2 linked regions of the Homo sapiens genome follow. The protein of the gene in region 2 interacts with the protein of the main gene of each other region in a biochemical or structural test. Each region holds a gene or a part of one and is shown on either strand. Other genes may lie near its edges.

Region 1 (5,751 bases), on a different chromosome or scaffold from region 2:
AATTAAGTCTAATGAAGAGGGATTGGTTCACAATCGGAAGTCCCATGATGCCTTCAGAGATCTGTGTGAACCTCTGCAATGATAACAAAATTTTGTTTTATACATGTGACACTGTTCTCAGGAGTGGTCATAGCTTTATCAAATTCTCAAGGGTCCACGGCCCAAAAAAGACAAGCTGATTTTTACAACTCAAGGTTAATTTATGAATGCTCACCTTCAAACGTTTCTTGATTCTGATTCTGCTATGAAAGAGTATAAAAAATAAAAAATGTTTCCCGAGTCTAAATTCAACCCAAAGCACGTATCAACACCCAATGGGCTTCATCCATCAAAATAAATTTGCCCACTGAAATGAGAAAAGCAAATGGGTTCAAGTCTGCCAAAGGTCATCGATGATCCTCATCATCTCTACTTTTCCACCTTCCCCTTGCTGCTCACCCCCAACTAGACTGTAAGTCCTGAGGCCAGAGACCTTTGCAACCTCTGCATGAAATTGCAAAAGGCAAAGCAGATGGAACTCGAAAGAAATTCACCACACCTATTTACGAAACCAGGTTTATTAAAATTTCTCTACAAGTCAGAAACGGCCATCTCACTGTTCACATATATACACGTATGTACAGGAAGAACCTAGTGTTTCTAGCTTTCCCGGCAGAAGGCCCTGCCAGCCCAGAGTCCTTAGTCGGATAATGTATCACAGATACAACAGTCGAGCAACCACGAGAGCGTTAGTGCGACAGAGGCCTCTGTCCTCCCTCTTCTCAAAGTCCCATGATTCTGTCAAGGTAATATTGCCAATAATCATTCACATTTCACGTGGTTTTAGACACGCAGGTTATTCAGACAGACACAGACAACAAAACAAGCCTCAAAGCCAGAACAAAACAAAACAAAACAAAATCGAACATAGGTATAAAAGGTAAAATATATGTACAAAGTACACAGTACGTGAGGTATACACGGCATTCTCACAATGCATGTTAGTAGTTTGCCTAGGCATAGCCCTTAAAGATGACTGCCTGTTTTTGTGCCATTTCTCAAAATACAGTATATTTTGTTTACCCGTTTAACCACCTGATTTCAGCACTGTCCAAGACAGTTACTGATATTTCATCTGAATTTGTTTTTTAATGAAAGTTGCAATTTCTCCATTAAGCTCCATCTTTTGTAGGGGAGTGAGTTTCCATCTCTGGACATATCTAACAGAGGCTGGATTCCCACCTACAAAAGAAGCTGAAGAGGGGATTTCTGCCTTGGGAGGTGGCAGAAAGAGGAAAGAGATTGGACCGGATGATTTTTAAAGTTCCTTCCAACTTTGAAGATTTGGGGTTTGCTGTTTCACTCCAGAAGCCGATTATACAGACGTATTCATAAACCACACATTTGAAATATTAACAACCCACCATGCAAAACTGCAGATGTACACACAATGCCAAAGGCGGACCATATCTGGGAGGGGTTAAAGTATAATTCTGGAAGTTAGTCTGAGAATCACAAGACTATCCAAAATTCACTCTCTTCAAAGCACAAAGATGTTTAATGTCTGCTCTTGGGAGAGGTGGGTGGGAGCCTCCTTATCTTTCTTCTCTTAGACAGAATGCTCCACCCTGAGATGGTCTTGGGGAAAAAGTAAAGGGTAGGTACTAACATATTTGGAAGGAACTTAAAAAGCTAATAGTTTCCAAGCACTCAAATTATTTTTTAAAATCTGGAGTCTCTCTGAGCTCAGAGTTCTGAAATCGTTGGGAGATGGAATCTTTTGTGATACTGTTCCACGTTCGGCTGGTAAGTGCTTTTATAGCTAAAGGGGGAAGTGTCAAGGTCAGGGAGAAGGCATTAGTGCAGATGAGGTCTTGGCAGGAAACAGAGAAGAGTCTCGGTTCATGGTTCCATCAGGCTCCTGAGCAACTTAAAACAGTCTGCTCCAAAAACGGAGCAGAGTCATTGGTAAATGTGAGTGTGAAGAAAGGGTGAGTGTTAAGCCAAAAAAGGAACTTTCCCATCAGAGAAGCTGCCGTAGCAGTCTAGCCACCAAAGATGAGTTCAAAGATGGCAGATTTATTGGCCCAATTTGTCACCCTGTGAAAAATACGGTTATTACTCAAAATATGTCATTGTGCGATTTGCTTTTTCTCCCATTCGAATGCTCAAGTTTATTACACACTTGACCACCGGGTGTAAGATGTCCATACTCTGCCCTCCACAAAAGATGCGGAACTCCCAAATCCAGCAGAGATAGTTGGTGAGGGTTCCTTAAGGGAAACAAATTTGCAGGGCAGCCAATCACAGCATATGCTGCTCAAATCAATAAAGTCACTCATCCCAACAGAGAAGAGGAGGCGCCATGCCGAGTTCAGCAGCTTTCATCCTGATGCAGTCATTATCTGGTTGGTACCACGCCAAAGGGCCTGTCCATCTTTAGAAATGGAAATGCCAGGTGTTAAGAATTATGAGGTTTCTGAGGTTTTGGGGATTAGCAGAAGAAGGAACTAATGTCACTGTCCTCCTGGTACTCTGGAACAATCTGGTCTGAAGTTCCTATTTCTGAGTCGATGTACCCGGGTTCCAAGACGGACTCAAACCAGGGGTGCAGTAGGATCTCGGGGGCAGTGAGTCTCTCGGAGGGCTCCCGTCTCAAGAGGCTGCGAATGAGGCACCTGGCTTTGGGGGAAATGTGCTCAGGAATGCAGAACTGTCCACGCCGAATTTTGGAGAAAAGGGCACTGGGGTCTGAGTCATGGAAGGGGTATCGTCCAACCAGAAGGGTGTAGAGCATCACCCCCAGGCTCCAAACGTCCGCAGCCTTTCCGGAGTAGGTCCCAGTGGTGTTGAGGATCTCAGGGCTCACGTAGGCTGGGCAGCCATGTTTGTCTGACAAAGCATCATCTTCCCCCTTCATTATGTGTGTGTCTTCTAGACTTTCTAGTCTAAGCTGGGTTCTGCAAGAGAGAGGAACCAAGCCATTATTTCCACACCAGCTGCTATGAAAAACAAAGCCTTCCCAATAACAGCGCCCACAGGCACTAACAGCAAAGGCTCCAGGAATGCTATTTACCCCTTCGTCCAGTAAGCAGTGCCCTGCAACTACCGAGGGCTCCTGATTTCACAAACTAACACGAACTGCAATAAATGTTTGCAAAGTATCGGCAGAGCGCCTGGGGTGGAGGGTATGAGGCAAAGCCCCAAATAGTATTCATAATGCTGGAGCTTACAAGAGATATCCTAATAGGAGTTACGCAATTTACTAAGTTCCCATTGCAGAACTGGGAGCCTGTCTCAGAATGCTGCATTCTCTACAAAAGCTAGCAGGGAAGAGCAGCATATCCTACTTCTTCAGAGAGGGCCTGAGCATCCTACGAACCCATCTTCCCTCTTATGACTGCCAGGGCTACCTGGACCCACACTGCATTACAGAACACGGAGCCCAAAGTCACTGCTATTACACACAGGTCATCAGCGCTGGTGCCCACACTGATACATGCACACAGAGCAAACTTTGTCCTCCTGGGCCCAGGCTGCAACAATTAGGATGGGAAAGTTGCAAGGAATGTTAATTACATTTATTGGGGTGTTTAACTGCAAAGAACACTTTGCCTGGACAGAGAGGTTATGCGAGCAAACAAAAGTGGCTGATGGATTTCAGGGACGCAGGGACCCTGAAATTCTTACACAGGGACACACACTCCCCCTGGGATGGCACATCAACATGTGAGCATATGTATTCTACAGGGGGGGTCTCTGTTCAGGTAACAACGAAAGTCTAAAACACCTTCAGTCAAAGGCTCTCTTATGAAGCTGCAGGTGCCTCCTTATTCAGAACCAGCCACCCAAGTCTCCTGGATCCCCCAAAGCTCAAAGCCATGTGGTGGGGAAGCTCTGATATCCAGTGACACCCTGTCTCTGCCTGCTTCTCTGAAATACCCGTTTCAGTAAGTCACTTGTGAAGTTAAATGCAAACATTTGGTACTGGCTGATGGGTCAATTCCTTTTCCTCTCAAAGGTCTGTTTTTTTTTTTTTCTGCCTTCCTGTTCCCTGGAGTGTAGTATACATGTGCTAACTTCAGTATGTCCTCAGCGTGACCTCCCTGTCGTTATGTAAAATACCCATTGGTTCTGTAAACGGAAAATATGACTCAACCCACACTGTCTGCCCCTGATTGGCTGCTACAGCACTAAAACCCTGCACCTGTGCTGGTTACACGAATAGCGTCAGCCTGACATTGCTTAACCCCCGGGTTGCCAAACCCCATGCCCATGATATTCGCCTGTGCAATGCAGATTTCAAAAGCTAGTAAGGAGGTGTGTAAGGCATGTTTCAGAAAATGCATCACCATATCAAAGGAGCATGTTCCAGGAATTAGAAACTTCTTCATTGCCAACAGTTTGCTTTTCTTTGCTAATCAGTGTGTTCCAATAATTATTGCGAGGTCAGATACAAAGTCATGCTTTATGACAGCTCAACCCTGTACTGTTTCATATGCTCTGGAGTCAAAGGTAAAAATGCACAGGTGAGATAAGCCCACTTCTTACAACAAACTAACTCACTCTCACCTCTACAATGTTACAGCCTTACTGCTTGTAATCTTTCCACAAGGGATGTGGCTGGCTCTTAAAATCAAGTGTGGTCTATCTCATGCGGCTTCCTGAATTCTCTAGCTGAAACCTCAGCTTTGAATCTTAATGCCTCATTACTCTCTTATCAAGCTCATCTTGTTCTTTATGAGGTAAGCTATGATCTATATTTAGCAATCCATCCTAACCAACTTCCATTTACTATTCAATGTGGCTATTTTCTGAAGACGGATCCAAACAAGCTGTCTAAAAAGTCACCAGAGAATGTGATGTTACAGAGAACCTGGACTGGGATGGGAGAGGAATGCTGTGTGAAACAAGAGGGTGGAATTCTGCATATATGACAGTCTCACTAGCTCTGTGAAACCTTCCAGGTACAAAACAGCACTTGGCATAAGCAAAGATTTGAACACTTCCTTCAGAAGGCAATATCGTAAAGGGCAGTTTAATATTTGTACCCCAGACAACTGACCTTTCTGACAACAATGGGGAATGAACCTGATCCTGGGGTAGGAGAGGAAGAGCACCCTGTCAACACTTGCCATCCCATAGAAGCGCCACGGTGTCCCCAGGCCCCGTCCAAGAGAATGCAGAATAAACCAACCTTGGCTGTGACTCCTCAGGAACAGAAGCTCTAAATACTAAATCTGGGACATATGAGCCCTTGACTTTGTTTTGCACCAACACACAGCACCTAACTACATGACCTGCACCTCCGCTTTGGTTCCAAAAGGCCACAGGAGAAGCTGTGGCGGCCGCTCACCTCTCCTCCGTGGAGAAGACGAACTTCCTAAGCTTCAGGTCCCCCAGCACGATGGCTGACTGGTGGCAGTGGGCGACGGCGGAGACAATCTGCTTGAAGAGCCGGGCGGCTTCCTCTTCCCGCAGCCTCTTCCGGCTTCGCACATAGGAGTGCATGTCCCCAAAGTCCTTCTCAAAGAAGACATAGGCCTTGGTTTCCCCAAGGATCACTTCCACAATGCCAGTAATGTTGCTGTGCGATGGCAGCTGGATGTAAGGCCTGATTTTGTCCTGGTAGTGTTTAATGGGAAACACCTGTAGAGAGAAGGGGGGCCCGTTTAGGGGGCTAGAAAAGCAAAGGCAGCCTCCCAAACCCCTGAGGGAGCTGAACAGAAGTTCTCAACCTGTGGGCTTAGGATGTGAGTAAGTTCCATTCAC
Region 2 (7,205 bases):
GCTTCAAGACATATTCTCACTCTCCTGGGGACTCTGGCAAGGAAAGAAGGTAGAAGATGCCAATCTAAAGAAATGCAAGTGCTGGGGGAAATCCCAGGAGGCTGGGTGTGGTGGTGAAGGAGGGTGGTGTGAAGCAAAATGGGCTGGGCCTCTGCTTTGAGCCCCCTTTTAGTCTAAACTGGGATCTGAGCTTTAGGACATGGCGAGGAGAGAAGACAGGAAGAGGAGAAGCTTCAGGTCCCAGAGGGGTACCACAGTGGGTGTGGTTTTTGAAACCACAGTGGGTTTGTGAAAAGAGTAAAGATGTTCACATTAAGGGTCCCAAACACTGCAGGCACATTCCCACCATCAGGATTGGCTATAGAATTTGGGGGGCCTGTTGGTCACAAATGATTAAGATCATTACAAATGATCAAGGCAACAGAGCATTAAACTAAGTGCGGGTCCTGGTCACCACAGAACCTTTGCACTTGCCCGTCTTGGCCTAGAATCCCCTCCCCCAGATCTCTGTATGTTCACTCCTCACCTCCTTTAGGTTCTCCATGAAATGTGACCTTCCCAGAAAGACCCTGTTGGACAGCACTATTTAAAATTACAGCCCCTCCCCTGGCAGATACACTCTATCCTGTCTGCTTATTTCTTCTCCAGAACATTTATTTATTACCTGACAATTATTTGTCCATTGTCTAACTCCCTCTTCCCCAGAATGTAAGTTACACAAGGGCACAGGCTTTTTTCTGCCTTGTTCAATGCTATATTCTCAGTGCCTGGAACAGTGGCTGGTACCAAGAAGACACTTAATAAATATTTGTGGGATATGAATGAAACCCAAGCTGCTTCAAGCAGCAGACCGTTCCAACAAAGACCGCATGTAAGTCACAAGTTGTTCTAGTATACACAGGCATCATTTCAAAAGGTTCGTAAGTGGAGGCCTGCTAATTCACGAATAACATGAAAAAATGAACAGCACTGAGGATAAGAACTTTTTAGTTGGGGGAAAGGGAGAAATTTGGGCTGGAGAAATCACGGAAGAATTAACACAGGAGACAGAACTCAAGCTGAGCTTTAAAAGGCAGGCAAAGAACAGGAAAGAGGAAAGGAAGTTATTCCAGTTAAGTCAATTCATGAGTACACATTTGGTTTGGTTTGCTGTCTCACTGCATATTAGCCAGAAGAAAAGTGTTCACATTAGGGAGCTTACTTATTTGTGTTTAACTTAAAAACAGAAGAAGGTTAAGCCATTAAATCTATCTTGTTGGCAACACAGATGCAGGATCTGACAGGTTAAATATTGACATGGTGAGTGATAAATATTGGCCAGCAGTATTAAAACTTTCAGCAGACCTAAAACTCCATATCTTAACCTGGAAGGATGCTTTGAATGTTCAAGGGTTCTAACAATCATAGAGCCTTTATAAAGTCGCAGTCAGAAGCAGCAATTTTGCCCACATTATTTCAACTCAACAAACATAGATAGGGCCCCTACTGTACTAGTAAGGCAGGTGGAGTTAGAACAGTAAGGCAACAGATCCTGCCCTCCAGGGATTCACAAGAGGCGGAAGCTAAGGGCTTATCGGTGATAAGCTTCAGTAAAGAGGAAGTAAAATAGCATAGCAAACTCTGAGTACTAACGATAATGGCACCAGCTTACATTTATTGGGCCCTTACTGTACTCCAGGCTCAGTGCTAAGTTCCATGCCTATTTCATTGCCTCTTCACGAGATAGGTACTAACATCATCATCATTTGACAGCTAAGGCAGGGGAAATTAACTTGCCCAAGGCAAACTGGTAACAGCAGAGCCAGAATCTGAACTCAGGTCTGCTTGACTGCAGAGCCCAGCCCCATAGCCAAGACTGTCCTGACTCCATTAATGTCATTCTTTTAGTTAAAAGAAACAAGACTTTAGGCTCTCTGAGGACAAGGAGCCATTCTGTTTACTGCTGATTCCCCAGCACTGAGCTGATCAATGAATATATGTTGGATGAACAGAAAACACAGTCGTCCCCCCTTATCCGCGGTTTTGCTTTCCATAGCATCAGTTACTTACAGTACAGTATTATGAGAGCCCACATTCATATAACATTATAGTATACTGTTGTAATTGTTCTATTTTGTTGTTGCTGTTAATCTCTTACTGTGCCTTGTTTATAAACTTTATCATTGCTCTGTGTATATAGGAAAAAAAAACATGGCATATACAGGGTTCAGTACTATCTGCATTTTCAAGCACCCACCGGGGGTCTTGAAATGTATCTCCAGTGGATAAGGTGGGACTACTGTATTCTCAGTTAGTGCTGCGTCACACACCCACCTAAAATGGATATCAGTTATTGCTCTTTTTTCCTGCCCAACATCCACTTCCTCTATTTAGGAAACCATCCCACTCCCACTCTTAGTCAACACAATTTAGGCAGAGCTGACCTCACCTTCATCTTCAGGAATGGGCAATGGATTCGAGTCTGAACAATTTGAATCAGTGATTGGCTGAAAGGTGGACACATGACCCAGTTTGCAGCAATGGGAATTTAGGTTCATGACTTGCAGCTCTCTTTCCCTTGAGTTGCTAAGCAGATAGAAGACTAGAGTTGCTGGTAGCCATTTTTCCCCAAGAGGAAAGCCTGTCTGTGAATAAAGTCAACAAAAGGAAAGCAGGATTAAGAGAAGGCAAATCCTACTTACCTTAGGTAAGCACCCAGAACAAACATTACCACCTGGAATTTTCAGTTACAGGAATCAATAGATTCCAGTTTGGGTTTTTAAGCCAGTTTGGGTTGGGTGCTTGTTGCCTGCAGCCCAGAGTCCTGATACACCACCTAAATAAAAATGGAGCCCAAGCAAGTTGGTATCACAGCCACTCCACTGAAGAAAGCAGCACACTTGCAATTATACTCAGGTATATCCACTATCTCCAAGAAGCCTGGGTTTATGAACAGAGGAGAAGAGAAGACAACAGAGAAAGTGCCTACTGCCTCTGAAATTCTGACCAGGGATGTGTTCTTTCACTAGTTTACTTATACTAAGAACTCTATCAGGTGCCAACTGAGGTATTCCCAACTCATCACCTAAAAAGAGATGGCTGCTAAGTGCTATTACTAAAAGCTTCATAAAACATGAGGCTTGGGAGGAGTCCTGCGTTGTTTTTTTTTTGTTTTTTTTTTTTTGAGGTGGAGTCTTGCTCTGTCACCCAGGCTGGAGTGCAGTGGCGCAATCTCGGCTCACTGCAACCTCTGCTTCCCGGGTTCAAGCAATTCTTCTGCCTCAGCCTCCCCAGTAGCTGGGACTACAGGCACGTGCCACCACACCCGGCTAATTATTGTATTTTTTAGTAGAGACAGGGTTTCACCGTCTTAGCCAGGATGGTCTTGATCTCCTGACCTCGTGATCCATCCACCTCGGCCTCCCAAAGTGCTGGGATTACAGGCATAAGCCACCATGCCCAGTGAGTCCTGCGTTTTCATGTCAGCTTTGCTTGCCCATCAGAGGTTCTGGCCTATACCAGCCAGATGACACTCCAAGGCAGCACTGCTCACCTACCCATCCAAAGGCAACTTCACTTTTGATTGCTAACTTATTAGTTGTTCTCTCTCTAGTGATGGATACTGAAGACTCTGAAGTGGAGGAGACTGCACCAGAAATACAACAGGGTGCACTAATGAAAGTGCCAAAGGTTGGAGAAGAAACGGGGGCAGGGAGGAAGTGTAAGAAGGTAGTACCAGATTTTATTTCCCATTCATGTCAAGTGGATCAGCTTCTGTTAAAGATTCTAGGGAGTCTCAAATGGAACTAACTCTTCCTTTCAGGAGCCACCCATGGATCAAGCAAGGATTCTTGGGAAGGCACAAGGCAAAGATGATAAAATGGTTACCCAAGGCAGATCTAGCCCACTGACAGGTTTTGTTTAACCTGCAATGTTAGCACCTAAAATCTTATTAATTTTTATTAGTTACCAACAATTAAAAATTGGAAGAGCTTTTGAGGTAGACTGACATAGTGATGGCCCCAAATTTGTTCATGTCTCTCTGTATCCAAGCACTTGGGTAAATCCACACTGACTCTGGACTTGGCCACATGAGAATAACAAACATGACCTATGCAGACTTCAAAAGCACCATTGCATCTGGCCACTGGGGCTCGCCCTCTTGCTGCTCTTGTAACTCTGAGAATGCCCACTTGGGGCTAAGCTAAGCTGCTGTATGATGACTCATAACCCAGATACACACCTCTTTCTCTCTCTCTCTCTCACACACACACACACACACACACGCACAATTAGCCAACCCCTAGAAGCAGAGCAGCCTAGGTGACCACAGCTAACCTCAGACACACGAGTGAGCTCACCCATGCCCAGCCCAAGCTGCCACCCTGCAAAATGGTGAGCTAAATCGTGGTTGTTTTAAGCCAACGTTTTGGATGGTGTTTTTAAGTGAGACAGAATCTATTTTGCCCAGGCTGGTCTCAAACTCCTGGGCTAAGGTGATCCTCCTGCCTCAACTCCCCCAGCAGCTGGGAGTACAGGCATGTGCCACCATGCCCAGCTTGGATGGTTTTCTCATGCAGAAAAAACTGAAGGAGTCCACATAAAAATACATATTCCCAATTAAAAAAAAAAATCTAAAGACCTTACAACACTGGGACCACATTCCTACAGGGCAACAACCAGCTAATGGGGGCAGTGGTTATTACCCTGACCCCAGCCATGGCATGTATTTCCCAATGTGTCTTTATCATCTTGCCCATGCTGGGGTCAAGTTCTGCTGTCATGTCATCTCAGCTGGGTGTTGATTTATGGTAAAGAAGAAAGTGAAATACTACATTCCACATACACAAGTTACTATCAAAAGTGAGAAAACCAGTACAACTACTTTGGAAAACTGTCAGTATCTACCAAGGCTAATCTATGCATACCTTATGACTCACCAATTCCACTCCCAAATGAATACTCAGGAAAAATGTGGACACATTTTTCAGAAGATGTACAAAACATTTATGGTGGCACTATATCTGAGAGTCCCAAACTGGCTATCAACAAACTAGCAACAATTCCCATCAACAGTAGATAAGATGTGGCATATTCATAGGGATCAATCTCACAGATAATGCCATACACGAGAACTCAAAGACACATGAGTATGTGCTGTTTGACTCCACTTAATATACAGTTCAAAAACAAACAAACTAAATGTGGTGTTAGAAGTCAGGTGAGGCCAGGCATGCAGGCTCACACCTGTAGTTCCAGCACTTCGGGAGGCCGAGGCGGGCAGATCACAAGGCCAGGAGTTCAAAACCAGCCTGGCCAACATAGTGAAACCCCATCTCTACCAAAGATACAAAAATGAGCAGGCCGTGGTGGTGCATGCCTGTAGTCACAGCTACTAAGGAGGCTGAGGCACAAGAATCACTTGAACCCGGGAAGTCAGGGTTGCAGTGAGCCAAGATCATGCCACCGCACTCCAGCCTAGGTTACAGGGTAAGACTCTATCTCCCAAAAAAAAAAAAAAAAAAAAAAAAAAAAGTAGTCAGGTGAGTGGTTACCCTTGGGTGGAAGAGAAGTCAGGTGAGTGGTTACCCCTGGGTGGAAGAGAAGTCAGGTGAGTGGTTACCCTTGGGTGGAAGGGAACACAGGGCAGGGGAGGTGGTTCTGACATGCTGGTGATGCTGCCCTGTGACCTGGCTGCTGTTTACATGGATGTGTACACTTGAAAATTCATCAAGCTGTGTATTTAGGCCCTTGTAAAGGTCAATACATAGTTTGAGCTTAAAAACTTTTAAAAGTGGGAAAACAAGACCAAGATGGCCATGTTTAAAGACAATTCCTACATGTTTAATTGTGACAAAAAGAACAGCTGCCACTATGAAACGAATTATAAAGCTATGACCAGAACACATAAAAACACCTGATGAGCTGGGAGAAAAGACCTAATGTGCAACACCCAGCCTACCTCACTCACGTGCATTACCTGCCTTAGCCCTGTGGGCTCTGGGGCTTGCAACCACTGACACAGGAATCCAAGCCTTTTCCATAAACCTTGTCATCATTTATCAGCCTGGAGAGAAGGAGTAGGTTTATTATCTAAAAATCAGTTACTTTCCTAATGCTCATCTACAGATTAGTTGAAAATAGCCACTGGAGAGAGTTGTTGGGAGAAATGAAGACGATAATGTCTCTAAACCCTTAAGACAGTACCAAGGAGACAGTTTACGCACACAATGAATTATAACTTTATTTATAGCAGTGTTACTAATGATTGCAAAGTCTTGTTTTCATTTTTTATTTTTTGAGATGGAATTTTGCTCTTGTTGCCCAGACTGGAGTGCAATGGCACGATCTCGGCTCACCACAACCTCCGCCTCCTGGGTTCAAGAGATTCTCCTGCCTCAGCCTCCTGAGTAGCTGGGATTACAGGCACCCACCACCATGCCTGGCTAATTTTGTATTTTTAGTAGAGACAGAGTTTCTCCTTGTTGGTTAGGCTGGTCTCGAACTCCTGACCTCAGGTGATCTGCCCACCTCAGCCTCCCAAAGTGCTGGGATTACAGGTATGAGCCACCAGGCCCAGCCTTTTTTTTTTTTTTTTTTTTTGAGACAGGGTTTCGCTCTGTCACCTAGGCCGGAGTGCAGTGGTGTGATCCCGGCTCACTGCATCCTCGACCTCCTGGCCTCAATCAATCCTCCCACATCAGCCTCCCAGGTAGTGAGGACTACAGGAACATGCCACCACGCTGGCCAATTTTTGTAGAGATGGGGTTTCTCTACGTTGCCCAGGTTGGTTTTGAGCTCCTGAGCTCAAGAGATCCATCCACCCACCTCAGCCTCCCAAAGTGCTAGGATTACAGGCATGAGCCACCTTGCCCAGCCACAAAGTTTGCTTTTTGCCTGCTTTTGACAGGGTCTTGCTGTGTCACCCAGGCTGGAGTGCAGTGGTGCAATCATGGCTCACTGCAGCCTCAGCCTCCTGGGTTCAAGCGATCCTCCCACCTCAGCCTCCCAAGTAGCTAGAACTAAAGGGGTGCACCACCACACCTAGCTAAATTTTTTAAATTTTTTGTAGAACCAGGGTTTCACTATGTTGCCCAGGCTGGTCTTGAACTCCTGGGCTCAAGCAATCCTCCTGGCTTGGCCTCCAAAGTGGTGGGATTACAGGTGTGTACCACCACACCTGGCCTACAAAGTCCTCTTTAAAATTAGAGGTGCCCCAAAAGTTG

The links.
Region 1: the proteins of FBXW8 (region 2) and TRIB1 form a complex in vitro, tested with the Homo sapiens proteins (one study listed by BioGRID).

What each region holds. Positions count from the first base shown.
Region 1 is NC_000008.11:125,433,194-125,438,944, reverse strand, and holds the end of TRIB1 (tribbles homolog 1), read right to left. Parts: intron 5,629-5,751; coding exon 5,336-5,628; intron 2,940-5,335; coding exon 2,474-2,939; 3' UTR 542-2,473; downstream 1-541. UniProt on the Homo sapiens protein: Adapter protein involved in protein degradation by interacting with COP1 ubiquitin ligase. The COP1-binding motif is masked by autoinhibitory interactions with the protein kinase domain.
Region 2 is NC_000012.12:116,913,950-116,921,154, reverse strand, and holds part of FBXW8 (F-box/WD repeat-containing protein 8), read right to left. Parts: intron 2,625-7,205; coding exon of another isoform or gene 2,424-2,624; intron 1-2,423. UniProt on the Homo sapiens protein: Substrate-recognition component of the Cul7-RING(FBXW8) ubiquitin ligase complex, which mediates the ubiquitination and subsequent proteasomal degradation of target proteins.